4 linked regions of the Homo sapiens genome follow. The protein of the gene in region 4 binds, or shares a complex with, the protein of the main gene of each other region. Each region holds a gene or a part of one and is shown on either strand. Other genes may lie near its edges. The genes, in order: ARPC5, ARPC3, ARPC2 and ARPC1B.

Region 1 (7,027 bases), on a different chromosome or scaffold from region 4:
TGAAAAATAAGTTAAACCTTTACAAAAATAAACAGATTGTAATTGCTTTTTAAAGATTTTTTAAAACCATACAAATACTAAATACTTATTATAGAAAGCTCAGACATATGAGAAGGTTAAAAAGATAGTGGTTTGTGGTCCCAGCACCCAGAGATAACAGTTACTACTTTGGGGCCTTGCTGTATTGTTACAGAGTTCCCTTTTGTTTTTTTAAGAATGAAATTTTATAACGTGCTTTTTCAGCTATATGCAATGTACATGAGCTTTCCTTCGCAATAAGTTTATAGCATTTTTAACACTTGTATATGGATAAGCTGCAGTGTATACATAACTAATCTTTTGTTATATATTTAGACTGACTTTTTTTTTCCTATTGTAAACCACTGAAATCAATATTTTTTGGTAAATTTTTAATTGTTCTCTTTGAGTAAATTGCTAGCAGTGAATTACTGGATCAAAGAATGCACTTTTTTTTAAGGCTTTTGGTATGCAGTATTGCCAAATTGCCCTTCAGAACAGTTGTGCAACTTACATTCTCTGCAGTCTTTTACTAATTCTTAACCTATTTACGTATTTATTTAAAATGATGCCCATAGCATCAACCCCGTTGTCCATAGCTATTCATACATCCTAGGAGCTTCAAGAATCTCAATTGAATAGTAGTAAGTAATAACTTAGGTAAATGCATAATAATTATCTAGGTAACATAATTTTTTATTGGGGAAAATTTCTTTGGTTTTTACAAGTTGTAAAGATTGTCGTTGAAATTTCATTTTTACCGTGGATGCAAAGATATTTTTCTAAATCTGGTAATTGCAGTCTTTAAACCAAAGATAACAGTAGGTGGTAGAAACATTCTGTGAAATCCTGACCAGTAGGAATGCTGGAGGTATCACTTTGTGTTGAATGGAAGGAGAAACGAATTGTTGAAAAGGTCAGTTAAGTGTTTCCTTTGCTTGGCCGGATGGGTAAGAAAATAACTGCTTTTGAAGCAGGCTTTTGCCAAAGAAAAAAGATCATTATTAATGAACATCACTATATTTCATATCTACAGTCAATTCATATAAATTACAGTCAATTTTCTTTTAAGACAGCTTGGTTTATTAAAATTTTTAAATAAAAAAGTTTTTAAGAAAAAATTACTTCTGAAGGATAATTCAAGGTGAAACTGCAAATCTGCCTCCTTGTTTTGTTGGGAATTTTTTTTTTTTTTTTTTTTTTTTGAGACGGAGTCTCACTCTATCACCCAGGTTGGAGTGCAGTGGTGCAATCTCAACTCACTGCACCCTCCGCCTCCCGGGTTTAAGCAATCCTCCTGCTTCAGCCTCCCGAGTAGCTGGGATCACAGGCACACACCACCATGCCTGGATAATTTCTGTATTTTTAGTAGAGACAGGGTTTTACCATTTTGGCCAGGCTGGTCTCGAACTCCTGACCTCAGGTGATCTGCCCATCTCGGCCTCCCAAAGTGCTGGGATTACAGCTGTGGGCCACCACACCCGGCCGTTTTGTTGGGATTTTTTTTTTTTAAGATCAAGACATAAATTTAAATGTTGTTTTAATAAATTGTTAAATTATCACATTGATCTGTTAGCAAATCCTCTCAGCTCTGCCTTCAATTATGTTAATAGTCTGTCTAGTTTCTTACCACCTCCACTGCTACTATGCTTACCACATCCAGCCTGTATTATTGCAATTGCCTCCTAATTGCTCTCCCTGCTTCTACCTTATCCCCTACTCCCACAGCTTATTTTCTGTAACATAGATGCCAAAGCAATCCTGTTAAAATGTGAGTCAGATTATGGCACTGCTCTTAAAACCTTCCAATGTCTTCTCATTTCTCTCAGTAAAAGCCAAACTCCTTACAATGCCTGTAGGCCTTACACGATCTGTCCTCCCATAACCTCTGACTTACTCACGTGCTTTTCTCCCACCAATCCACTCCAACCACATTGGGTTTTTTTCTGTTCCTGGAACACACTGAACACACACTAATAGCACTGTTCTTTCCTCTGTCTGAAACACTTTCCTCAGTTATCCCAAGCCTTCTTTCACGTCCTTCAGGTCCTTACTCAAATGTCACATTCATAGTGTAGACTTTCTGAAATTCTAAACCCTCCTCATACAGATATGTCTAAATGTTCTGTTATTTATTGACCCACCAGGACCGGGCAGGCAGCATTGTCTTGAAGGTGCTCATCTCTTTTAAAGCTAATGATATAGAAAAGGCAGTTCAATCTCTGGACAAGAATGGTGTGGATCTCCTAATGAAGTATATTTATAAAGGATTTGAGAGCCCGTCTGACAATAGCAGTGCTATGTTACTGCAATGGCATGAAAAGGTAAGTTATGAATTATAAATCTATATGACTGGTTCTTTTACAATAGGGAATGACAATGACAACCTCTCTCACCTAAATAACCATTTTGATTTGTTGTACATTTTTGTTATTACAAATAAAATGCATGAAAAGGATAGTTCATATTTATGTTTACTAGCCTTGGTCTTAAGAGATTCTGATTCCAACACTTGTGTTTATTCAACAATGATTATTAGTAATTAAACATAATCTTGAACTCTGAATTAAATCAAAACTTTGTAAAAGAAAATAAGCAATACAAATCAAGAATTCTTTCACAGTGACCAAAAGGTGAAAACAACACAAGGATCATAACAGATGAACAGCTAAATTGTGGTACATACATACAATGGAATATGATTCAACCATTAAAAGGAATGACATTCTGACACATGCTATAACATTAATAAACCTTGAAAACATACCAAGTGAAATGAGCCAAACACAAAAGAACTAATATTTTATAATTTTACTTATATGAAATAATCTAGGATAGGCAAACACAAAGGGACAGAAAGTCCTTAGAGGTTACTAGGAAGTAGGGAAAGCAAGGAATAGGGAGTTAGTGCTTAATAGGTACAGAGTTCCTCCTTGGAGTGGTAAAAAAGTTTTGGAAACAGATAGTGGTGATGGCTACAGTACATTGTGAATATAATTAATGCCAATGGATTTTACACTTAAAGATGGTTAAAATGGCAAATTTTGTGTTAGATATTTTACAACTTTTTTAAAGAATTAGGAGTTTGGAGGATCAAGAATTCTTAAATCATGTTTTTCTATTTTCATGTGTATATTTTGCAATGTAAGTAGATGCTGGTACATCATCTGTCAAAAGAGTATAAGTGATTTTGAGCTTTGGGTAAAAAACTGGATAACATGTAAATAGAACCAGTCATAAAAATATTGAGTGTTTGAAGTGTATCTGAGTGAAAACACAAACATAAGAAAAAAGCACATAGTAAAACAATAGTTCCCCCTTTTACTCTAAAATGCACCAATTTGGGTAGTAATTTATATGGCACCCTATTCATGGAACACTTTCTGTTGCCAGGTACCATACTATTAATGTTTTATTTAACCTTTACAACAACCCTGTGAAGTATATAAATATCTTTATCATCCTCAATTTACAGATGAAAAGCTAGCTTTAAAACCCAAGCAGCGTAGTTCTAGCATAGCCTCAAGATTGCAGTGAACATTGATTACTTATTATATTCCACATATTCTTCAAAGGACTTTATAAATATTAACTCATTTAATCCTCATAAAAATGGAGGGAAATGCTTGCTATTATTCCTCTTTTGTCACTGAGGAAACTGAGGCATGTGTGAAGTCTTCATTTCTTCCAAATGTCAGTCACCAGTTTTTACCAATCTTCGAAGTATTTCTGAAATCTATCTGTTCAAGCGTATCTAATGCAGCTGTTCACAGCATCTCTCCCAGTCTGTTGCCATAGCTTCCTGACTGGTTTCCCAGTTAACAGTTTTGCCTCCTTCAAATCTGTTCTCCACCCAGCCATCAAAATGATATCTTTAAAATCAAAATTGCCCTTGTCAGTCACCTGCAGGATAAAGTCAAAGTTCCCAAGTCTAGCTTCATCTTCCATGTCATTCTTCCCCTCAGGCTATAGCAATGCCAGCCTTTTTCCTGAATGCACCATATTGTTTCACACCTCCATACATTTGCTCATGATTTTCTGGTGTTAGCCTGTCACCTACTCATTCTTTTAATGTGTCATTTCCTCCATGAAGCCTTAGCTGAAACATTCCTCTATACTGTTAATCTGGGTATAAGCCTCTCCCTGGTGCTTTAATAGCACCTGCAGCACAACTCTCATTTCATACATTAGATTAAAATTACCTGTTTATATGTCTGTCTCCTCATGCTAGACCAGAAAATGCTGTATTTGTTCACTTTTGTATCCCCAGCATCTAGCACAGTACTCAGTATACAAAGGTATTCCATAAATATTTTTTGAACAGAAAGAAACCAGAGCTCAGATTCCTAATACTTGATCATTACTCTCTATTTTTCAAATTAGAGTCAGAGTTAAAGTTTCTAAGTTCTTAGCTATTAAACAATACCTTCTTTCTTTGGGAGAAAAAAAATCTGACAAAGGCTGACTAATCGAAGTGGAAGTTGGGATGGTTGATCCCAGTTTGAATTTTCTTCTGACTATGTGGTGAGAATGAGAAATGCAGAATGTCCACCTGTTTTGAGCAGGAACACTATGCTGCAGATTTTTTTTTTTTTTTTTTTTTTTTTTTTTTGAGACGGAGTCTTGCTCTGTCGCCCAGGCTGGAGTGCAGTGGCGCAATCTCGGCTCACTGCAAGCTCCGCCTCCTGGGTTCACACCATTGTCCTGCCTCAGCCTCCCGAGTAGCTGGGACTACAGGCACCCGCCACCACGCCCGGCTAATTTTTTGTATTTTTAGTAGAGACGGGGTTTCACCATGTTAGCCAGGATGGTCTTGATCTCCTGACCTCGTGATCCGCCGGCCTCGGCCTCCCAAAGTGCTGGGATTACAGGCGTGAGCCACCGCGCCCGGCCTATGCTGCAGATTTTTTAAAACATTATTTAGAATTAATGTACTAAAATGTAAACTAGTATCTCACTAGAATGTAACTTCATGAGGGCAGGGACTTTCAAGGTTTTGTTTATTACTGTAACCTCAGTGCCAAGAACAGTACCTGGTGCATAATTGGTGCTCAAGAATTTATTATTTGTTAACTAATAAATTCAGGGTCTATAGCAGTGCCCATTCCTTCTTTAAGAAAAATGTTTTACCAAATATGAGAATTGACCTTTTATTATTCTGTCAACATTTACATCTTGGTTTGTTTTTAGGCACTTGCTGCTGGAGGAGTAGGGTCCATTGTTCGTGTCTTGACTGCAAGAAAAACTGTGTAGTCTGGCAGGAAGTGGATTATCTGCCTCGGGAGTGGGAATTGCTGGTACAAAGACCAAAACAACCAAATGCCACCGCTGCCCTGTGGGTAGCATCTGTTTCTCTCAGCTTTGCCTTCTTGCTTTTTCATATCTGTAAAGAAAAAAATTACATATCAGTTGTCCTTTAATGAAAATTGGGATAATATAGAAGAAATTGTGTTAAAATAGAAGTGTTTCATCCTTTCAAAACCATTTCAGTGATGTTTATACCAATCTGTATATAGTATAATTTACATTCAAGTTTAATTGTGCAACTTTTAACCCCTGTTGGCTGGTTTTTTGTTCTGTTTTGTTTTGTATTATTTTTAACTAATACTGAGAGATTTGGTCAGAATTTGAGGCCAGTTTCCTAGCTCATTGCTAGTCAGGAAATGATATTTATAAAAAATATGAGAGACTGGCAGCTATTAACATTGCAAAACTGGACCATATTTCCCTTATTTAATAAGCAAAATATGTTTTTGGAATAAGTGGTGGGTGAATACCACTGCTAAGTTATAGCTTTGTTTTTGCTTGCCTCCTGATTATCTGTACTGTGGGTTTAAGTATGCTACTTTCTCTCAGCATCCAATAATCATGGCCCCTCAATTTATTTGTGGTCACCCAGGGTTCAGAGCAAGAAGTCTTGCTTTATACAAATGTATCCATAAAATATCAGAGCTTGTTGGGCATGAACATCAAACTTTTGTTCCACTAATATGGCTCTGTTTGGAAAAAACTGCAAATCAGAAAGAATGATTTGCAGAAAGAAAGAAAAACTATGGTGTAATTTAAACTCTGGGCAGCCTCTGAATGAAATGCTACTTTCTTTAGAAATATAATAGCTGCCTTAGACATTATGAGGTATACAACTAGTATTTAAGATACCATTTAATATGCCCCGTAAATGTCTTCAGTGTTCTTCAGGGTAGTTGGGATCTCAAAAGATTTGGTTCAGATCCAAACAAATACACATTCTGTGTTTTAGCTCAGTGTTTTCTAAAAAAAGAAACTGCCACACAGCAAAAAATTGTTTACTTTGTTGGACAAACCAAATCAGTTCTCAAAAAATGACCGGTGCTTATAAAAAGTTATAAATATCGAGTAGCTCTAAAACAAACCACCTGACCAAGAGGGAAGTGAGCTTGTGCTTAGTATTTACATTGGATGCCAGTTTTGTAATCACTGACTTATGTGCAAACTGGTGCAGAAATTCTATAAACTCTTTGCTGTTTTTGATACCTGCTTTTTGTTTCATTTTGTTTTGTTTTGTAAAAATGATAAAACTTCAGAAAATAAAATGTCAGTGTTGAATAATTTATTTTTCTCTGACTTTAACAATTATGAATGTATGGTTAATTAAGAGGAAAGGTTTTCTGCTTCTACCACCAAGTACTGTACTCTTAACAAGAACAGTTTGGTAGGGTTTTTATAAGACTATATAGATATAAGATGATAGAGAAGAGAGTCATGAATGATGTCAGAGCACTACTGAAGCCTTTGGAGTGATTCCATAGCCTTCTGGATGGCAGCTGAATACCTATATGTAGTATCACTGCCCAAAGACCTAGACTAGAAAGTGCAAAGTAGCTTAGCAGCTGCAGTCATTCACTCCCAGCCTCCAAAATTCTCTTTCTTTCACCTCAAATCTATTTCTTGTACTTACCTACTCACAGCGACTTCTGTTTGCTTTCGATCTTCACCTGACTAGATTCCCACTTTAAAACACTTCCAGGCA
Region 2 (7,027 bases), on a different chromosome or scaffold from region 4:
TGACTTATAAAAAGCCAGACATCTTGTAAAAAGCAGAACTAAGAATCAGCATACAAAATGCTCTCATAAATGTGATTTTTTTTATCCCTTCCTTTAACACACACCTACCCACTGAAGGGAATATATATCTTCTCATTTTACAAATTTGGAAACAAGCTAAGAGAAGAAGAATGATGTCTTGGTCAAAAGCATAACGCCATGAAGTGGCAGAGCTGAAAAGATAGTGCTTGGGTCTTGGTTTAGCTGGGGGCTGGGTACCCTGATTTATATGATGTTTGTCTTTCTGTAGTGGAAATACTTTGGCCAGATACCAATGTGATGTCACCGAACATAGAATTGGAAGAGATGCACAGCAGCACCCCATTATTTAGTATTTCGTAATAATAACCTTAAGAACATAGACAATAGTAAAATGTAATTTTTAAAAATTAGGTTATTGCCGGGTGCAGTGGCTCACGCCTGTAATCCCAGCACTTTGGGAGGCCGGGGCGGGTGGATCATGGGGTCAGGAGTTCGAGACCAGCCTGACCAACATGGTGAAACCCTGTCTCTACTAAAAATACAAAAATTAGCTGGGCGTGGTGGCACGCACCTGTAATCCCAGCTACTTGGGAGGCTGGGGCAGGAGAATCGCTTGAACCCAGGAGGCGGAGGTTGCAGTGAGCAGAGATCGCGCCACCGCACTCCATCCTGGGCGACAGGGCAAGACTCCGTCTCAAAAAAAAAAAAAAATTAGGAAGTAGGCCAAGTGCAGTGCAGTGGCTCACATCTGTAATCCCAGCACTTTGGGAGGGCAAGGCGGGCAGATCACCTGAGGTCGGGAGTTCGAGACCAGCCTGGCGAAAATGGAGAAACATCGTCTCTACCAAAAATACAAAATTAGCTGGGCGTGGTGGCTTATCCCTATAATCCCAGCTACTCAGGAGGCTGAGGCAGGAGAATCACTTGAACCCGGGAGGCGGAGGTTGCAGTGGGCCAAGGTCATGTCATTGCACTCCAGCCTGGGCAACAAGAGCCAAACTCTGTCTCAAAAAAAAAAAAAAAAATTAGGAAGTAGCCAGGTGTGGTGGCTCACACCTGTAGTCCCAGCCCTTTGGGAGGCTGAGGCAGGAGGAACACTTGAGCTTAGGAGTTTGAGATCATCTTAGGCAACATGGTGAGACTCCTTCTCAAAAAAAAAAAAAGAAGTGATGAATACTTAAGCATCATTGTTTTTAACATTATTTACTTTTTTTTTTTTTTTGAGACAGTCTTGCTCTGTTGCCCAGGCTGGAGTGCAGTGGCACGATCTCGGCTCACTGCAGCCTTCGCCTCCTGGGTTCAAGTGATTCTCCAGCTTAGCCTCCCACATGGCTGGGACTACAGGCGCACGCCGCCACGCCTGGCTAATTTTTTATATTTTAGTAGAGATGGGGTTTCACTGTGTTGCCCAGGCTGGTTGCAAACTCCTGAGCTCAGGCAATCTGCCTGCCTCAGCCTCCCAAAGTGCTGGGATTACAGGCATGAGCCACCACGTCCAGCCAACATCATTTACTTAATTGTAAGTTTATATAATTTGATTTTTGAGAAGAGCTGTGTTTAACAACCAGCTTGAAAAATGCCTCAAAATTTAACAATTGGTTTTCTTGAGCCAGAAAGAACCAGCCCTCGCACCTCAATGCTGCTATCCCTTCTCCCTCCCCTAATTAATCTTGGGTGGTTTACTCTTTTTTTCCTTTAAGGGAAGGTTGTTTGCCACAGTGACATTTGCTCTTTTTCTGCTTCTGTGTTCTTCCTGGGCTTGCCATTACAGGCTTACCACTCTTCTCTCATGGATCCTGATACCAAACTCATCGGAAACATGGCACTGTTGCCTATCAGAAGTCAATTCAAAGGACCTGCCCCCAGAGAGAGTAAGTCTAAACCCATTATTTTCAAATTTTGGTACGAAATGCCTAACAATCTTCTGAAATGATCAAATCAGAAAAATTCTTAGCTCAGTCTTCTCTCTCAAATTGCCCTTGTACTTTGCTTGGTAGATACTGTGGTCTAGACCTTTCAAGATAGTGGTTATATGTTGCATTTAATAGGAAATTGTATTATTTCTTCTGACTTCTCCAGGAAACTCTTTTGAGAAAATGGAGGAAATGTGCTTAATTCTGGACACTGTTTATCAGTTCTTTCAAACAAATCTAATGCTGTTACGTCTAGAATGCCACATGCCCATCCTTTCTGTCATCAACCTGGAAAAGAACAACAACAAATATTTTAACCTCTTCCTCGTCTAAATCTACTTCCTTTATTCATTCTTCAAGATCTTCATTTTTAGCAATACCTCAATCTTAAATCTGAAGTGTACTATGTAACATTACTTACGTCTATTCCCGCTTTTCTGAATTTTATTTCAGAAAGCCGCAATATTTTTCAGACACTGTCTGAGACTCTTCTGATGCTTTCTGAGATGTTCTCCCAACAGTATAATTTGTATTATGTTAGACATGGTTTCCCTGTACCCTGCAAGGGTCTGAACTGAATTCCATTCATGGTTTCCAAGACCATTATTATAATTACCAATTTGGTACTTATCCAGTCCCCATTTCTCTGCCAGACTGTTTGACTTGACCTTTTTTAAACTTAATTTTGTTTTCAACACCATTTGAAAGCTCAGTAAACTTAATGCATATGGTGAGTCACCACAGTCTCTACTTGATTCTGAGGAAAAGGAACAAGGAAGAAGACAGCCTGGGAAAGAAGAAAAATAACATAAAAGAAAATCACAAGGCTGGGTGCGGTGGCTCACACTTGTAATCCCAGCACTTTGGAAGGCCAAGGCAAGTGGATCACTTAAGGTCAGGAGTTCGAGACCAGCCTGGCAAACATGGCGAAACCCCAACTCTACTAAAAATACAAAAATTAGCTAGGCATGGTGGTGGGCACCTGTGATCCCAGCTACTCAGGAGGCTGAGACAGGAGAATCGCTTGAACACAGAGGGTGGAGGTTGCAGTGAGCCAAGATTGCACCACTGCACTCCAGCCTGGGTGACAGAGTGAGACTTCATCTCAAAAAAAAAAAAAAATTTTTTTTCACTGCAAAGGCCAGGCGTGATGGCTCACACCTATAATCCCAGCACTTTGAGAGGTCGAGGTGGGTGGATCACCTGAGTTCAGGAGTTCAAGACCAGCGTAACCAACATGGAGAAACCCCATCTCAACTAAAAATACAAACAATCAGCCGGGCATGGTGGCGCATGCCTGTAATCCCAACTACTTGGGAGACTGAGGCAGGAGAATTGCTTGAACCTGGGAGGTGGAGGTTGCAGTGTGCCGAGATCATGTCATTGCACTCCAGCCTAGGCAACGAGCAAAACTCTGTTTCAAAAGAAAAAAAAAAAAAACCTGAATTGGAATGGAGGCCTGTGCTGTGAGCTAAATAACAGCATTAATCACACTAATTCATTTATATTCAACAAATATCTGTAGAATGCCTTTTATGTGCCAAGTATTCTTCTAATTTCAGAATCCTTTGGCCTTTGCCCCCTCCTGTCATTGCATTTAGAAGAACTAGCTGGTTTTTGGAAACAATATTGAGTCCTCCAAGACAGTTTTCTTTCACAGATAAGAAAACAGATTGCAGCCAGGCATAGTGGCTCACGCCTGTAATCCCAGCACTTTGGGAGGCTGAGGCGGGCAGATTGCCTCAGGTCAGGAGTTTGAGACCAGCCTGGCCAACATGGTGAAACTCTGTCTCTACCAAAAATACCAAAATTAGCTAGCTGTGGTGGCAGGCACCTGTAGTCCCAGCTACATGGGAGGCTGAGACAGGAGAATCACTTGAACTCAGGAGGCGGAGGTTGCACTGGGCCTAGATTGTGCCATGGCACTCCAGCCTGGGCGACAAAGTGAGACTTGATCTCGAAAAAATAAATAAATAAAAAATAGGGCGTGGCGCGGTGGCTCACGCCTGTAATCCCAGTACTTTAGCACTTTGGGAGGCCAAGACGGGTGGATCACGAGGTCAGGAGATCGAGACCATCCTGGCTAACACGGTGAAACCCCATCTCTACTAAAAATACAAAAAATTAGCCAAGCGTGGTGGCGGGCTCCTGTAGTCCCAGGTACTCGGGAGGCTGAGGCAGGAGAATGGCGTGAACCCAGGAGGCAGAGCTTGCAGTGAGCCAAGATTGCACCACTGCACTCCAGCCTGGGCAACAGAGCGAGACTCCATCTCAAAAAAAAAAAAAGTAAATTGCAAGGAACACAAGTCTAGAGTTAGAGTTCTGTTGAAATTCTTCCACAGGGCAATGAGCTGGGATGAAGACAACTGAATTGCAGAGTATGAAAGCTTCAAGATTACTTTGCATTTCTGCTGTGCGAGAACGTTAACAGTCATAGACAAGAAGTATAAGTAACTGTCTCAGCACTGCTGAAACCAACTGCCAGATATCAAGACCCTGGGATTTTGACCTTTTTAAAATAAGAAGAAGAAAAACAAAAAATTGCCAAACAAATTGTGTCATGAGATCTGTCTTTGTCAAGACAGTATTTCTGGCTTTTGTCCGTCTAGAGCTACCTACAACAGCTTGTACAAGTATATTTTAAGTCATAGTTTTCATAAAAAGAAAGATGTGTATCTGAACCTCAACATGTTCTAAATAATTGAGTTTTTTTCTGAAACTATAATATGTAAATTCAAATAAAATTATATTGAATACTTTTTATTTTATTTAATTATATATATTTTTTATTATTACTTTTTTGAGATGGAGTCTCGCTCTGTCACCCAGGCTTGAGTTTGGTGGAATGATCTCAGCTCACTGCAACCTCTGCCTCCTGGGTTCAAGCAATTCTCCTGCCTCAGCCCCCTGAGTAGCTGGGATTACAGGCACGTACCACCATGCCCGGCTAGTTTTTGTATTTTTAGTAGAGACAGGGTTTCTCCATGTTGGCCAGGCTGGTCTCGAACTCCTGACCTCAGGCAATCCATCCGCCTCAGCCTCCCAAAGTGCTGGGACTACAGGCGTGAGCCACTGCGCCCGACTGAATACTTTTTATTTTTAGGAAGCAGTTAAAGTTAGTCTATGTCTCAGTGTTTTTTTATAAATGCATTGAGAGACGTCTTGAATAATGTTCACCAAATGCTAATGGTAGTTATTTTTGGGGAAATGGGAATTAAGGTGACAATTAAAAATTTTTTTTTTGCCTGGTGCTGTGGCTTATGCCTGTAATCCTAGCTACTCAGGAGGCAGGAGGATCACTTGAGGCCAGGAGTTTGAGACCAGCCTAGGCAACATAGTGAGACTGCATCTCTAAAAAAAACTTTTTTTTTTTTTTTGGAGACAGAGTTTTGATCTCGTTGCCCAGGCTGGAGTGCAATGGTGCAATCTTGGCTCACTGCATCCTCCACCCGCGAGTTCAAGCGATTCTCCTGCCTTAGCCTCCCGAATAGCTGGGATTACAGGTGCCTGCCACCATGCTTGGCTAATTTTTTGTATTTTTAGTAGAGGCGCAGTTTCACCATGTTGGCCAGGCTGCTCTCAAACTCCTGACCTCAGGTGATCCACCCGTCTCGGCCTCCCAAAGTGTTGGGATTACAGGCGTGAGTCACTGTGCCCAGCCATCTTTAAAAACTTTTCTTTAAAAATTTTATTTAATTTTTAAAGAAAAAAATTAGCCAGGCCTCATGGTGCATGCCTGTAGTCCCGGCTACCTGGGAAGCTGAAGCAGGAGGATCACTTGCGCTCAGGAATTCAAGTCTGTGGTGAGTTATAATTGTACCACTGCACTCCAGCCCGGGTAACAGAGCAAGACCTCTCTCTAAAAAATAAAACTGTTTTGATTGAATTTCATTTTCTAATGAGCATGTATAAGTTTTACGAAAACAATAAAGCTGTAAAAATAAACCATGTACTACTTTTCTATAAATATTTTCTGAAAATCCGGGGGTGGTGGCTCACTCCTGTAATCCCAGCACTTTGGGAGGCTGAGGCAGGCAGATCACGAGGTCAGGAGTTCGAGACCAGCCTGACCAACAAGGTGAAACCCCATTTCTACTAAAAATACAAAAATTAGCCAGGCCTGGTGGTACATGCGTATAATCCCAGCTACTTGGGAGGCTGAGGCAGGAGAATCGCTTGAACCCGGGAGGCAGAGTGAGCCGAGATCATGCCATTTCACTCCAGTCTGGGCGACGGAGCAAGACTCCGTCTCAAAAAAAAAAAATTTGGCCGGGCACGGTGGCTTATGCCTGTGATCCCAGCACGTTGGGAGGCCGAGATGGGCGGATCACGAGGTCAGGAGATCAAGACCATCCTGGCTAACACGGTGAAACCCCGTCTTTACTAAAAATACAAAAAATATAGCTGAGCATGGTGGCAGGTGCCTATAGCCCCAGCTACTTGGGAGGCTGAGGCAGGAGAATGCCGTGAACCCGGGAGGCGGAGCTTGCAGTGAGCCAAGATCGCGCCACTGCACTCCAGCCTGGGCGACAGAGTGAAACTCTGTCTCAAAAAAAAAAACAAAGGCTGGGCACGGTGGCTCATGCCTGTAATCCCAGCACTTTGGGAGGCCGAGATGGGCGGATCACGCGGTCAGGAGATCAAGACCATCCTGGCTAACATGGTGAAACCCCATCTCTACTAAAAATACAAAAAATTAGCGGGGTGTGGTGGCAGGTGCCTGTAGCCCCAGCTACTCAGGAGGCTGAGGCAGGAGAATGGCGTGAACCCGGGAGGCAGAGCTTGCAGTGAGCCAAGATCACGCCACTGCACTCCAGCCTGGGTGACAGAGCGAGACTCTGTCTCAAAAAAAAAACAAATAAATATTTTCTAAAAACTTTGTATTTCAATAGGATCATTTTATTTTATTCAACTCCACAACTGTTGACAGTTGTATGTGTTTTCCCTTTATGGCTTTGATAGTTGTTATGTTTTGTATTTGGCTAATGTTCTCTGTGCTCCTTCCCTTGTGTCCTGCTTAGCAAAAGATACAGATATTGTGGATGAAGCCATCTATTACTTCAAGGCCAATGTCTTCTTCAAAAACTATGAAA
Region 3 (7,027 bases), on a different chromosome or scaffold from region 4:
CCTGAAACTAGAATTAGGTGCTGAGTGCCATCACTTTATGGAGCTGTCATGGGAATCACGAAGGGATATCTGGCAATGCCAGTTAGTAGGAGGGTAAAGGGATGGTGCCTGGCCTCCAGGTAACAGCACTTCAGAGCTGCAAAAGTCTTCCAAGATCATCTTGTCGAGGACTCTTGTTGTAGAAAGGGTGGTTGTATTCCTCTGAGTTCATTCACCTAACAAGTAAATAGTACCAACACCTAATTCTTTATAGGGAACAGAAAGCAGCAACATCTCTCTCTGACTTGATGAACACATCTCTAGCTGTTCATGTTTCCCTACTACTCTAGTGCTAGGCAAACTAAGACTGACAGCTACTTGAAGATAATGTAATATTTCCAAATTAAAAAAAAAACACAACAAAAAAACCTCAGTTTTACCACAAAATTAAATCCAAACTTCTAATTTATCAGCAGGTAACTTTATATTGTCAGTCATCAGTGGATTAAATACATGAAATGGTCATCTATTATAAAGAGCTCAAAAAGACCTGATGAGGGACAGTATCCAAAATGTCAAAGCTTTTTTTTTTTTTTTTTTTTTTTGAGATGGAGTCTCACTGTCGCCCAGGCTGGAGTGCAGTGGCGCGATGTCTGCTCACTGCAAGCTCCGCCTCCTGGGTTCATGCCATTCTCCTGCCTCGGCCTCCGGAGTAGCTGGGACTACAGGTGCCCGCCACCATGCCCAGCTAATTTTTTGTATTTTTAGTACAGACAGGGTTTCATCATGTTAGCCAGGATAGTCTCGATCTCCTGACGTCGTGATCCGCCTGCCGTGGCCTCCCAAAGTGCTGGGATTACATGCATGAGCTACCGCACCCAATCCATGTCAAAGCTTATTTTAGGTACAATTTTCTTTTCTTGTCTCTCTCTTTTTTTTTTTGAGACAGTCTCACTGTATCGCCCAGGCTGGAGTGCAGTGGTGTGATCTCAGCTCACAGCAACTCCTGCCTCCCAGTTCAAGTGATTCTCCTGCCTCAGCCTTCCGAGTAGCTGGGATTACAGGTGCCCACCACCATGCCCGGCTAATTTTTGTATTTTTAGTAGAGGGGGTTTCACCATGTTTGCCAGGCTGTTCTTTAACTCTTGACATCAGGTGATCCACCTGCCTCGGACTCCCAAAGTGCTGGGATTACAGGCATGTGCCACTGCACCCAGCCTATTTCCTATTTTTCATATTGTACCTTCTCTTCAGAGGGCTGAGATAAAGATGCTTACCTGCAAATGTTACTTCTACTGCTTCCGGTTTGTTTCTGTAAACAACAAAAAAGGTCCTCAGTTAAGATGACTGTATTGCTGCTTACCTTCAAAGGGAACTGGAAAGGCACCTGAGCTTCACTTAAGATCAGACCATTCTGTATAAATTTTAGGTTACTGCCAATCAGAGTACACAATTCATTTTCTCATGGACCTGAACCTTTGGACTTGCTTTAAGTAGAGGATAAAAAAGGAAGGTCAGATAAAAAAGGAAGGCCAGCTATAGCTTTTGTTTTTCACCTGCTGTTGAATCTACTGCTTTGGTTGGTGCTCACTTTCAATTCTGAATTTCCTAACAACATGCTATATACCACAAAATGCCATCTTTTGGTCAATGCCTTCCCCACAGGACAGTGGTATTAGGAGTAAAACGTTCAGCAGGAAAATGGCTAAGTATAATGTAGAATGGTTTTAATATGCTTAAAGAGAAAGGATGATTTCGGGCCATAAACAAAACGGCAAGTTCTATTCCACTTCAAAACCCGTCTGTAAGCCTTCCTACTCATCTTTCTTTCTTCCTTTACATCACCAAAGTACTTACCACTCACCTTCAAGAAACCCTCTTTAGTTCTACCCTAGTTTTGTCTTGCTTTGTAAATTCCAGCTCGGAACTTAAAATAGACAGTGTAACACAAAATAACACTATGAAATCACTAAGAATAGTCAGGACATCTGCTTTACAACTTTAGCTTTCTCATCACGCTCATGTTTTGGGACAAATACCCTTACACCTTTGCATTCTCCCCTATCATCAATAAAATGGGGGAATAAAAATGAACCTATTTACCTCATGGAACTACTACATATAACACAAGAACAGACCTGAAGTCCAAAGTAGGAAGCAAATGAAGACTATTGCCTTACCAGCTAGCTACCTGTAAACTCAATGATTCCACTTTGTTTTAGGGGCTAGCAAACAAGATGCGCATGTTTTCACATTTATTTTTGTCTAACTTGCTCAAGACCTCTTAATCAAGTACGTATCTTTCCACGATCTCTGCTCCATTACCTGCGAAAGAAACGAAGACTAAGTTGCTCTCCAGGGATGCTGGGAAATAATGGAATATATAACATGGTTTATGAGTGTTAAAAAGCTGATATAGAAGCCAGACAATACCTTTCAAAAAAACTGGCTTCTATGAAGCATGCTAGCCCTGCTGAAAAATCAACCTATACGAATCATACAAAGCTTCACCTTGCTTCTTCAAAGCCCTATATGTGACTTAGGAAAAGCGCACTGGGTATCTCTACGAATTGAAGTATCAAGTGGGTTTACGGAGAAGCAGAGAGTTCAGAATAGAAGGAAAAAACTAGATGAAAATTTAAATTGCTTCTGAGCCTTCATTTTGAAACTGTAGCCAGGAAACAAAGGCAACGAGTCCAATACCATTCCTCACCTCTAGAAAACAAGAGCAAAGAACAAAAATATGGAAATGTTAATCATGGACCAACTGAATGAAATATTAAGAGGATGACCAATGGGAGGAAGCATGGAAGCATACTTTCCTGGGGAAGGCTGACTGTGCTGAAGAGTCAGGGAGTTTATAAAAGCCCATTATTACATCACTTAGTAAGTTTTTTTTTAACCTTTAGGTTTTAATTCAGCCAAAGAAGGGCTGAGTTCCTCACTCTCCTACTTTGTCAAAAGACCTGAGAAAAACCAACTATAAATAAATAACCTTTGGGCTCCAAGTCATACACACTTTGAGTCTCTAATTTCAAATTTCTCTAGGCATAAAGTATCCTGAGCACAGATCCTTGTGGGAAAAGTTGCTACGATCGATCTTAAGTGGTCTGCTGTCTGACTTAGCAATATTTGTCAAATCACATTCATTAATATTTTAGTTTACTATTTATGGCTAGAAGAGAGAGAATGGCTGCTGAGGAGAGTATTAGGCCAAAGGAGACTTCATGGGAAGTCTTCTGGGAGTTAGAGGTCCGAGAACTCAGTGCCTTAACGATGAGTTTGCTGAGCGTGAAGTATACCATCACAAGATTGCTTCTCAATTCCAAGACCTGGCGTTTGTTATTTTACTTCTGTGGTTTAAAATTACAAAGGAGCGGGAGGAAGACTGGCCCAGGAAAAGTGTTCCACTAAATAGGCCCCCAGAATTAATAGTTACATTATTTACTGTTCTACCAGCTGCTAAAATTTCAGATGCTGGGGGTGAGAAAAAGCAAGTTATTTAGAATTCAGAATTTATTGGCTATGTGACCACAGGCAATGCTCCTCAAATGTCACCGGGCCTCAGGTTCCTCTTCTACAAAATGGGGACAAAACATCTACCTCCCAGGTTGGTGTGAAGACTGAGATGATATATGTCCAGCAGTACAGCAGTCTCCCCTTATCTGTGGGGGATATGTTCCAAGACACCCAGTGGATAAATAAAAGTGTGGATAGCACTGAACTGTAGCAAAGAAACACCAAGGTCACTTTTTTTACTTAAAGGAATCACTTCATGGGTTCTCTTTGGCATATCCAAATTGCCAGCATCATTACTCCTGTACTTTGGAGCCATTATTAAGTAAAATAAGGGTAACTTGAACACAAGCACTACAATGCTGTGACAGTCAATCTGATAACCTAGACAGCTATTAAGCGACTAACAGAGGGTAGCGTACACACTGTAGATATGCTAGACAAAAAGATGATTCATGTCCTGGGCGGGACAGCGCAAGATTTCATTATGCTACTCAGAATGGTGCACAATTTAAAATTAATGGATTGTTTATTTCTGGGATTTTCCATTTAATATTTTCAGACCATGGTTCACTGCTCACTGCAGGTAACTGAAACTGCAGAAAGCAAAACCACAGATAAGGGGGGACTACTGTACAGCAAAGTTTCTCAAACGGTGTCTTTTAAGTTATAGATATGCTGAGGTAATGATCCCCATATCCCTTAGGGCAGGCAGCAGGTGGCAGGATCTCTGAGAGGCTAGACCATTTACCCAAATGTGCCATACAAATACAATCATGTTCTGTGTGCCATACGATAAACAAGGTCAAGAATCACAGTGAAGGATGCCTGCACGGTGCTTACTTAATATGTAGTAGTTACTTATTCAATATCTACCCCCACCCCCAATCCTCAAGAGCCCTGGTTTTCTCAGTTGTAAATGAGATCCACTATCTGTCACAGAAATGAAATGAAACCATGTTAAGGCATATAGCACAGTGCCTAGCTCATAGAAGGTAATCAATAAATTAGTTCTTCTCCTAGGTGGAGTCAGAGATCGGACTCTGAAGCTGTGGTTGGGAGAGGTTTTAGGATTGCGGTAATTCCCTGAATCAGGAATTGGTTAGCAGTACAAGGAAAAACAGAACTCCTATAAGTGTCAGACTGCTGTAATGTCTGGAATCCTAGAACAAGCCGGCTGGGTAAGTCCTCAGAGTTACTGCCTGGACAACCCAAGACACTAAAACATAATCAATTCATTCAGACAGGTTTTAAGAGCTATTCTTAAAACCCTTTAGAAAAAATTTTCTTCTATCTTTTCTCTAAGGAAGCTTCTAGAATGTCAATAATCAATCCAGAAAGGGCTTCTGGCAACTGTATTATCTCATCTTCTTTTCTCATTAACAACTTTGGGGTTTTTACTCCTGAATGCACCCTAGGATCCAATTCCCCATTTTTTTCTTTTTTCTTGAGATGGGGTCTCGCTCTGTCACCCAGGCTGGAGTGCAGTGGTGCCACCTCTGCTCACTGCAACCTCCGCCTCCTGGGTTCAAGTGATTCTCCAGCCTCAGCTTCCTGAGTAGCTGGGATTACAGGTGTGCGCCACCACACCTGGCTAATTTTTGTATTTTTAGTAGACATATGTTTTGTCATGTTGGCCAGGCTGGTCTCAAACTCCTGACCTCAAGTGATCCGCCCTCCTTGGCCTCCCAAAGTGCTGGGATTACAGGCGTGAGCCAGGGTGCCTGGCCCCAATTCCCCATTTGGGCATTTATGTCTCTCTCCTACTTATCCCTTCTTATGTCCTGAATTAGAGGAATTACTGAATTCTGCTCACTATAAAGGTTTCTGAGCATTCTCCTTTAAATCTTCTATAAAGCTCCCATCATTCTTTTTGAGCAAAGCCTAAAAAAATAGATCATATTAGGTAAGAGGTGGTCCTATTCTCCACTAAGCCATATATCAAAATATGGAGAACAGAGACCTAAAAGCTGATTTACTCAATGTCACAAAAATGTCAGCTCCTAAAGAAACAAGGAATCATTCTATCTGGCTTCATTAATTTCTTCAATAAACCAATTTACTGAGTTGACTATATACACAATGAGGATGCTGGGGAAACAAAGATGATTAAAGTGATAGACCCAGCTCTTAAGGAGTTATCAGTTTGGTCCAGCACAGCTCTGGGGCTTCAGGACCAAAGTGGTCCCAAGTAGGCCACAGGACAGGTGGCAGTGTGTAATTAACTACAGTGACCTGTAAAAAGACCAACCAGGTCTTCTTACTGAGTTGGACACAACATTCCATTTCTTCTAAATGCTTAAACAATGTCCTAATTCCAAATCACTCCAAACAGCCTGTCTCTCTGAGGACATATGCAATATATTTGGGAATGAGAACAGAGTATCAGCAAGATTTAATTTATTCCTTTTTCAAATTTCTCTTCCCATCATCCTCGCCCACCCCAACTGGCACTGCTTGCTTACTGAGTTTCACTCCCCCCCATGGAACCACAGCTCCCCGCAATATACACTGGCTGTGGCACGGAGCCAGCACACACTTAAATCCAACAGCAATTTGCATCTGACAGAATTTCCTCAATTTTGGACTCCAGACTCCAGCTAAGTTGACAGGCCTAGCTTCTCAGTTATGAAACGGTTCTTGGTGTGTACACTAACGAAAGAATTAAATTAATTTGTCTGATTACTTTTGCTTTGAGGGTCTGGGTAAGAATTTCCAAATGAAAAGGCAATGCTGTTGATCAGACCTGTGCATGAGGTTATTTGCAGTGTTGGGCATAGCTTTTAAGTCAGTCACATTCTCTTAGTTTGTGGGCTGCTGGGAAGACAATTTACCAATAATTATTATTTTGTGACAATCTATGAGTTGTTTCAATAAGCCACTTCCCAGAAGTGTGTAGGAAAAAATTAAAAAGCAATCTGTTTGGAATGAACCTTAGGCTTTGTCAAACTGCCTCCAAATTAAAAGGTTATGATCAAATGTATTCTTAAACAGTTTAGATGACAACACTGCTTTACCCAAAAGAAAGCTGATACTTTTAGTAGGAGGCCACTGGTGAGAAGATCCAGCAGGATGATCTGAGAGGAATCATTAAAAAAAAAAAAAATCAACTTCAAATGGAAAATTAATGCAACTATATTCTGAAGTATATGCCACAGAACTATTTTTAAGACCATCTCATGCTTTCATTTTCAGAAGCTGGAACAGTGCTAATAGAACTTTGCAATAATGGAAATGTTCCATGTCTGTGCTAAATACAACAGCTACCAGCCACATGTGGCAAATGAGCACCAGAAATGTGGCTAGTGTGACCGAGGAACTCAATTTTATTTCAACTTAATTTTTACTTAAATTTAGCCAGCCACTTTGTATGGCTATCTTATTGGACATCACAGAGATGGAAGATGCACTCTGGAAAAGGCTGCTCCGAACTGTAATTTCCCCCATCGGTTTATTCTGAGAAGTGCAAAAAGTAGGGTGGAGCTGACCTCTCCTAGCAGGTTCCCACACCAGCAAAGCCTTTCAAATCTCC
Region 4 (7,027 bases):
CAGGGGCTCATGGCTGAGGCAAAGGCAGATATTTAACAGATACATCCCATTCTCCATCCAGACATCCACTGGCTGCACCCAGGGCTGGGAGGAGGCACAGGGCTAGGCGAGGCCTGGGTGATGGCTCTTGGGGAGGCCCCAGGGTGACCCAGCCTTGGGGAACTGAAGGAGGGAGATTTTTGTTTCTTGAGACAGGGTCTCTCTCTGTGGCCCAGGATGGAGTGCAGTGGTGTGATCATGGCTCACTGCAGCCATGAACTCCTGGGATTACAAGCATGTGCCACTGTGCCCAACTAATTTTTGATTTGTTTGTAGAGAGGGGGGTCTCACAATGCTGTCCAGGCTGGTCTCAAGCTCCTAGGCTCAAGAGATCTTCCCTCCTCACCTGCCAAGTATTTGGGATTACAGGTGTGAGCCACTACACTCGGCCAGAACGAGGGAGATGTTTGACTGCAGCCCTCTAGACTAGCCCCAGCACTGAAGGGGAACCCTGGCAGAGGGCAGCGACTCATCCTCCCGTCAGCCCAGCTCAGCCCCTGCCAGCCTGTCCCTAGCCTCCTCCACCTGCCGCTGAGTGTCAAAGGAGCCCACCAGGCCTGACGGGGGTGAGATCACGGTCTCAGCCCAATTCCTCAAACACATCTCTCCCCGCCTCCGTGACTCAGTTTCCCAGCATCACAGGGACCTGGAAGTGGAGGAGCCCAGTGGCACTGCTTGCCCAGCCACATGCCCCGGGACACATCACCTGCCTTCTTTTAACCTCAGTTTTCTCATCTGTAAAATGGGAACAGGAATCCTGCCTCCCAGCAGAGATGCTGAGAGCTGGAAGCAGATGACACACCGCACCTGGCCTCTATGAGGAGGAACCACGAGGCGGTTACTCTTAGCCTGTGATGGATGTGATATACCAGCCCTTTGAGGAGCAGGCCTCCCCAGCCAACCAGAGGCCAATCCTGGGGCACACAGGCATGCACCTGCCTCGGGCTTCCGTGCTGGCTGTTCCCTAGGCCTGTGACACTCTTCCCCCAGATACCGGCACACACGGCTCTCGCTCTGGTGCTGCCACTCAAGTCTGTACTCAAATGTCAACTTTTGGGGAGGCCTTCCCTGGAAACTGCAGCACCTTCCACGGTCCGGCACTTCGTAATTCCCTATTTCCGATTAAATTTTCTCAGCAGTCACCATCAGACATGCACTCACTGATCTGGCCCGCTGCCTTCCTCCCCTGCTGGAATAGAACCAGCTTGGCAGAGACACATTTTTGTTCTATCTTGTTCTCGTTTCTATTTCCACTGCTTAAATGCTTAGCACATAGTAGGTGCTCAAGAAATATCCGCTGAACAAATTTTTCATTGCCATTAGTGACCAACAGAGTACGTTCTCAGAAACGTGTGTGTGTGTGTATATTTGAGAAAGGGTCTCGCTCTGTTGCCCAGGCTGGAGTGCAGTGGTGTGATCACAGCTCACTGCAGCCTCGACTTCCCAGGCTCAAGTGATCCTCCTGCCTCTGCTTCCCAAGTAGCTGGGACTACAGGCTCACGCCACCCTACCCAGCCCTCAAAAATATTATCATTACATAGGTTAGGAATGAGGCCAGGCACGGTGGCTCATGCCTGTAATCCCAGCACTTTGGGAGGCCGAGGCGGGCGGATCACCTGAGGTCAGGAGTTCAAGACCAGCCTGGCCAACATGGTGAAAGACTGTCTCTACTAAAAATACAAAAATTAGCTGGGCGTGGTGGCGCACACCTGTAGTCCCAGCTACTTGGGAGGCTGAAGCAGGAGAATCTGTTGAACCTGAGAGGCAGAGGTCGCAGTGAGCCAAAATCACACCACTGCACTCCAGCCTGGGCAACAGAGCAAGACTCTGTCTCAAAAAAAAAAAAAAAAAAAAGGTTAGGAATGAATGTGTGTGAAAAAATAACTTAAAAATAATAAATAAATAAATAATTTTATTAAATAGGGCCAGGCGCAGTGGCTCATGCCTGTAACCCCAGTACTTTGGGAGGCCTAGGCAGGAGGATTGCTTCAGGCCAGAAGTTCAAGACAAGCATGGGCGATACAGTGAGACCCTATCTCTACAAAAAATTTAAATAAAAAAATTTGCAGGTGTGGTGGTGCACATCTGTATTCTTAGGTATTCAGGAAGCTGAGGCAGGAGGATTGCTTAGCCTAGGAGTTTGAGGCTGCAGTGAGCTATGATTGTACCACTGTGTGACAGAGCCAGACCCTGTCTCTAAAATAAAATGTATTAACTAGTACCATCCAGCACTTTCTGGATACTCCCTCCTTGCCAGCTCTAGAAAAAAAAGTATCCTTTTTTTTTTTTTTTTTCGAGATGAAGTCTCACTCTGTTGCCCAGCCTGGAGTGCAATGTCGCAGTCTTGGCTCACTCCAACCTCCGCCTCCTGAGTAGCTGGGATTACAGGTGCGCACCACCATGCCTAATTTTTATATTTTTAGTAGAGACAGGGTTTCACCATGTTGGCCAGGCTGGTCTTGAACTCCTGACCTCAAGTGATCCGCCCGCCTCGGCCTCCTAAAGTGCTGGAATTACAGGCATGAGCCACCGCGCCTGGCCAGGTGCTCTGTATACATTCTTGACTTCAACACTCCCACCAGCCCTGGACTTTCAGGGAGGCCTGGCTGCACTTGGGGAGGGATGCCAGGCTCCAGGTCAGCTCCAGATGACAGATGTGGGGGCTGAGGCCACCTGCCCAGAGTCACCAGTGACAGCCATTAGATAATGTGGCTGCCTCCCTCACCAGACTGGCAGTTTTGTGTTGGGTCTCAGGGCCTGGGCTGGGAGCCAACCAGGACTGGGAACCCTGAATGCCCCAGGAGGCCGGTGGCTGCCCCGTCACTGCCCTGCCCAGGGGCCGGCCCATCCTGCACTGCATCTGGGCCCAGGCACAAGGGAAAGGCAGAACGACCTTTGCCTGGGGCTGCAGTTTGGCCCCACAGGGCTCAGTGACCAGCCTGCCCGAGGTCACAACACAAAGCCCCCTGCGCTCACTGCCTGGAAGGCCCTGTCCACCTCCTGCTCACTCCAGATCCAAACCGCTTGCTTTCACTTGTATCAGGATGTCCTGGAAGATTCCTGGAGCAGCACAGGACACACACACATGCACATGTGTACATGCACGGGGCAGGGACCTCATGTTTCCTCCATGCTTAGAACAGGACCCCGGTGGGTCCCCAGTCAGCATTTGCTGAGCAAGTAGACACACGCAGCGCAGGGTCAGGCCACGCACACAAACACATGCGTGTTCAGCCTCACACACACAAGCACACTTTGCATGTTAAGCCTTGCACACACACATGCACACTGCACCTCCCCACACTTTAAGCACATGTTTAGCCTTGCACACATGACCATACTCCCCACATGCACGTGTTGAGCCTCACACACAGGCACACTGCAGGCCTGCACACATGTATGTTCAGCCTTGCACACACGCAAGCGCACTGTGTCCACAAGCACACTTTGCACGTGTGGGCAGCCTTACCCAGAACAAGCACCCGGCACCCACTGGGGCTGCCTCTGCAGCCTCTCTCTCCTTATAAGGCCTCTTTGTGTAAGGTGAGGGCCCCGGAAGCACCATCTCAGCGCCCTCAGCCATGTCAGCAGGTCTGATGGGGGTTTCCCTGAGCGTTTCCTGTGTTCCCAGGCTGGGACATCACCACCCACATCTGATGCCAGCACTGTGCAGAGAGAAGCTCAAGGCCTGTGACTGATTCACGGTGCTCATCTACACCCCGACAACCCCCATGGTCCAAGGTCACCAGCAGGGCAGGGGCAGGGTGAAGGCCAGAAGCCCACTTTCACACTCCACCCAGGCTCTGGTTGGCCCCAGGACTCCAGCTGAGGCCAATTTTTCCCTCCCTTTCAGCCCCAGGAGGCCCAGACTGAAGGAACCTCCGGGGATGAGGGTGGGAGAGCCCAGACTCAGAACCCTGGGTTGATGCACAGACTCTGACATCCCAGCATCAGTGGTCACATTCTTGCTGTGTGCCCAGCCACATCTCTGCCCTGGCTGTCAAGACGGAGTGGCTGGCTCTGCTGAAGACAGCAACCCCCACGTGTGCCAGTGGGCAAGGGCAACCGAGAGGACTTGAAGAGCCCTGACCACTGTTTCTAGGACCTAGACATACTCAAGGGGCAGAGGAGGGGCTGGAAAAGATGGCCACAGTGGTACACTAGTGACTGGCAGAGGAGGGAGGTTGAGACCACACCTATCAGCCAATCACACTTCAGCATGAATTAGCAGAAATACTTCCTAGTCTGTTGAACAAACCCCTTAAATGGGGCAAAGAAGTGTTAAGGGGGCGAGAGACAGGAAGACTCATTTCCCTTTTTCCATAACTTCTGCAAAGCAGCTGAAACCCAAAGCGCCTCTGCGATAACTCCCCAACCCCCACATCTTACCAGTGAGGAAGTGGGAGAGCAAAAAGGGAGTGGCTTCTCTCAGCCAATGCTGCCACAGGGCTCCAGTCTCCTGCCTCAGGGATTCTAGCCGGGGACACTCCAACTTCATCATCCTCAGGAAAACCTCTCACCTACCAAGCCTGCGTGAGCCAGCGTGTGCTCACCCCCGCCTGCCAATTACCCTGCTCTGGATGTCTCAGGAGAAAAATACGAGGGCTGCTTCACCCACCAGTGTTGACAGCATAAGGTCTCAGTGATGGCTCCTGGGGGAGGGATCCAGGACACCAACCCACTATCACTGTGGCCCTGTGAGCCAGCACTGTGGGCCTGTTTGATGTTAAGAAACCAGAGAGAGGAGGGGATAGCCGGGCACAGTGGCTCACGCCTGTAATCCCAGCACTTTCGGAGGCCGAGGTGGGTGGATCACTTGAGGTCAGGAGTTTGAGACCATCCTGGCCAACATGGCAAAACCCCGTCTCCACTTGGAAAAAAAAAAAAAAAATTAGCCAGGCATGGTGGTGCCAGGCAAAGAAAGCCTCAGGCTGCCCAGCGGCGGGGTGGTGGTGGTGAGGCACTCTAAAGTCCTGGGCCTTGATACTCTCTCCCTTACTGTGCTGGGTTTACATTCTAGCTGTCTTCATACTGGCTGGGTGCCCTCAGCCAATATTTCCCTCCCATCTTAATCCAGATGAGGCTGGGGCTAGACTAGGCACAGGCTGCGGGACCCTTCTTGCCTGGCTTCCTTAGGTTTCCCTGAATCCAGAGGTTTGGCTGTATCAGAGGCTAAACCAAGGAGGAGTTGCCTGGAGGAAAGATCTCAGCATTACAGGCGCTCTGGGAAGTCCCCACCCAGCTCAGGCAGTTCTTGGATAGAGCAGCCAGCAGGCTAATTTGCACCGTGCTAAGCGGTTACTCAACTTCCTATGCTGGGTCAGAGCCCTTCCTACCCCTATCCTTCCCTCTCCAGCTCTGCTCTTGAAGTCTTACCAACCACGCAGAGTGAAGTCAAGAAACACACATGAAAACAATCGTAAGGTACCATTAAAGCACCGGTTAGTCATCCAAACAAAACAAAAACACACAAAATTCAATGCTAGCAGAGCTGTGGAGAAATTGTCATTTGTTGCTAATTGGTTTAATTCTTCTGAAGGGCACTCAATTCAACAAGTGGGTGGGACCAAATATTAATAGAACAGAATAACACTAACAGGAACTTGAAAATTAGCATTCTGGCCAGGTGTGGTGGCTCACGCCTATACTCCCAGCACTTTGGGAGGCCGAGGTGGGTGGATCACGAGGTCAGGAGATCGAGACCATCCTGGCTAAAACGGTGAAACCCCGTCTCTACTAAAAATACAAAAAATTAAGCCGGGCGTGGTGGCGGGCGCCTGTAGTCCCAGCTACTCGGGAGGCTGAGGCAAGAGAATGGCGTGAACCCGGAAGGCGGAGCTTGCAGTGAGCCGAGATTGCGCCACTGCACTCCAGCCTGGAGGACAGAGCAAGACTCCATCTCAAAAAAAAAAAAAAAAAAAAGAAAAAGAAAATTAACATTCTTTGGTCACATACACCCATTTGGTCCTAAGAAAACAGCAACACATTTTTCTTTCTTTTTCTTTTTTATTTTTGAGATGTAGTCTCATTCTGTCGCCCAGGCTGGAGTGTAGTGGTGCATTCTCGGCTCACTGCAACCTCCGCCTCCCAGGTTCAAGCAATTCTCCTGTCTCAGCCTCCCCAGTAGGTGGAACTACAGGTGCCCACCACCACGCCCAGCTAATTTTTGTTTTTGTTTTTAGTAGAGATGGGGTTTCACCATGTTGGACAGGCTGGTCTCGAACTCCTGACCTTGTGATCCACCCGCCTCGGCCTCCCAAAGTGCTGGGATTACAGGTGTGAGCCACCACGCCTGGCCCCATTTTTCTTTTTTAAAAGCAAACAGGTGGGGTGCCATGGCTCACGCCTGTAATCCCACCATTTTGGGAGGCCAAGCCAGGTGGATCACTTGAGTCCAGGAGTTCGGAGACCAGCCTGGGCAACATGGCAAAACCCTGTGTCTATAAAAACTACCAAAAAAAAAAAAAAAATTAGCGGGATGTGATGCTGTACGCCTGTAGTCCTGGCTATCTGAGGGGCTGAGGCTGGAGGATTCCTTGAGCTGGGAAGGTGGAGGTTGCAGTGAGCCGAGATCTCGTCACTGTACTCCAGCCTGGGTGACAGAGTGAAACCTCATCTAAAAAATAAAGCAAACATGTTTATAATAGCTGTCTTTATAATGGTGACAGTGTGGAAAAACCCAGGTGACAATATGGAAAGAGTAAATTATGACATTAACATGTTGAGATGCTACGTAATTATTAATATTAGAAAAGACCTATCAACCGACGGGTGCGGTGGCTCACACCTGTAATCCCAGACTTTGGGAGGCGGAGGCAGGTGGATCACCTGAGGTCAGGAGTTTGAGACCAGCCTGCCCAACATGGTAAAACCCTCTCTACTAAAAATACAAAATTTATCTGGGCTTGGTGGTGGGCACTTGTAATCCCAGCTGCTCGGGGGGTCGAGGCAAGAGAATCACTTGAACTCGAGAGGAAGAGGTTGCAGT

Evidence for each region.
Region 1: ARPC1B (region 4) and ARPC5 share a complex: the UniProt entries of both Homo sapiens proteins name them as parts of the arp2/3 complex.
Region 2: ARPC1B (region 4) and ARPC3 share a complex: the UniProt entries of both Homo sapiens proteins name them as parts of the arp2/3 complex.
Region 3: ARPC1B (region 4) and ARPC2 share a complex: the UniProt entries of both Homo sapiens proteins name them as parts of the arp2/3 complex.

Annotation. Positions count from the first base shown.
Region 1 is NC_000001.11:183,625,776-183,632,802, reverse strand, and holds part of ARPC5 (actin-related protein 2/3 complex subunit 5), read left to right. Parts: intron 1-2,165; coding exon 2,166-2,342; intron 2,343-5,208; coding exon 5,209-5,271; 3' UTR 5,272-7,027. UniProt on the Homo sapiens protein: Component of the Arp2/3 complex, a multiprotein complex that mediates actin polymerization upon stimulation by nucleation-promoting factor (NPF).
Region 2 is NC_000012.12:110,440,317-110,447,343, reverse strand, and holds part of ARPC3 (actin-related protein 2/3 complex subunit 3), read left to right. Parts: intron 1-1,792; coding exon 1,793-1,892; intron 1,893-6,955; coding exon 6,956-7,027. UniProt on the Homo sapiens protein: Component of the Arp2/3 complex, a multiprotein complex that mediates actin polymerization upon stimulation by nucleation-promoting factor (NPF).
Region 3 is NC_000002.12:218,220,184-218,227,210, reverse strand, and holds part of ARPC2 (actin-related protein 2/3 complex subunit 2), read right to left. Parts: intron 1,292-7,027; coding exon 1,257-1,291; intron 1-1,256. UniProt on the Homo sapiens protein: Actin-binding component of the Arp2/3 complex, a multiprotein complex that mediates actin polymerization upon stimulation by nucleation-promoting factor (NPF).
Region 4 is NC_000007.14:99,377,709-99,384,735, reverse strand, and holds part of ARPC1B (actin-related protein 2/3 complex subunit 1B), read right to left. Parts: intron 1-7,027. UniProt on the Homo sapiens protein: Component of the Arp2/3 complex, a multiprotein complex that mediates actin polymerization upon stimulation by nucleation-promoting factor (NPF).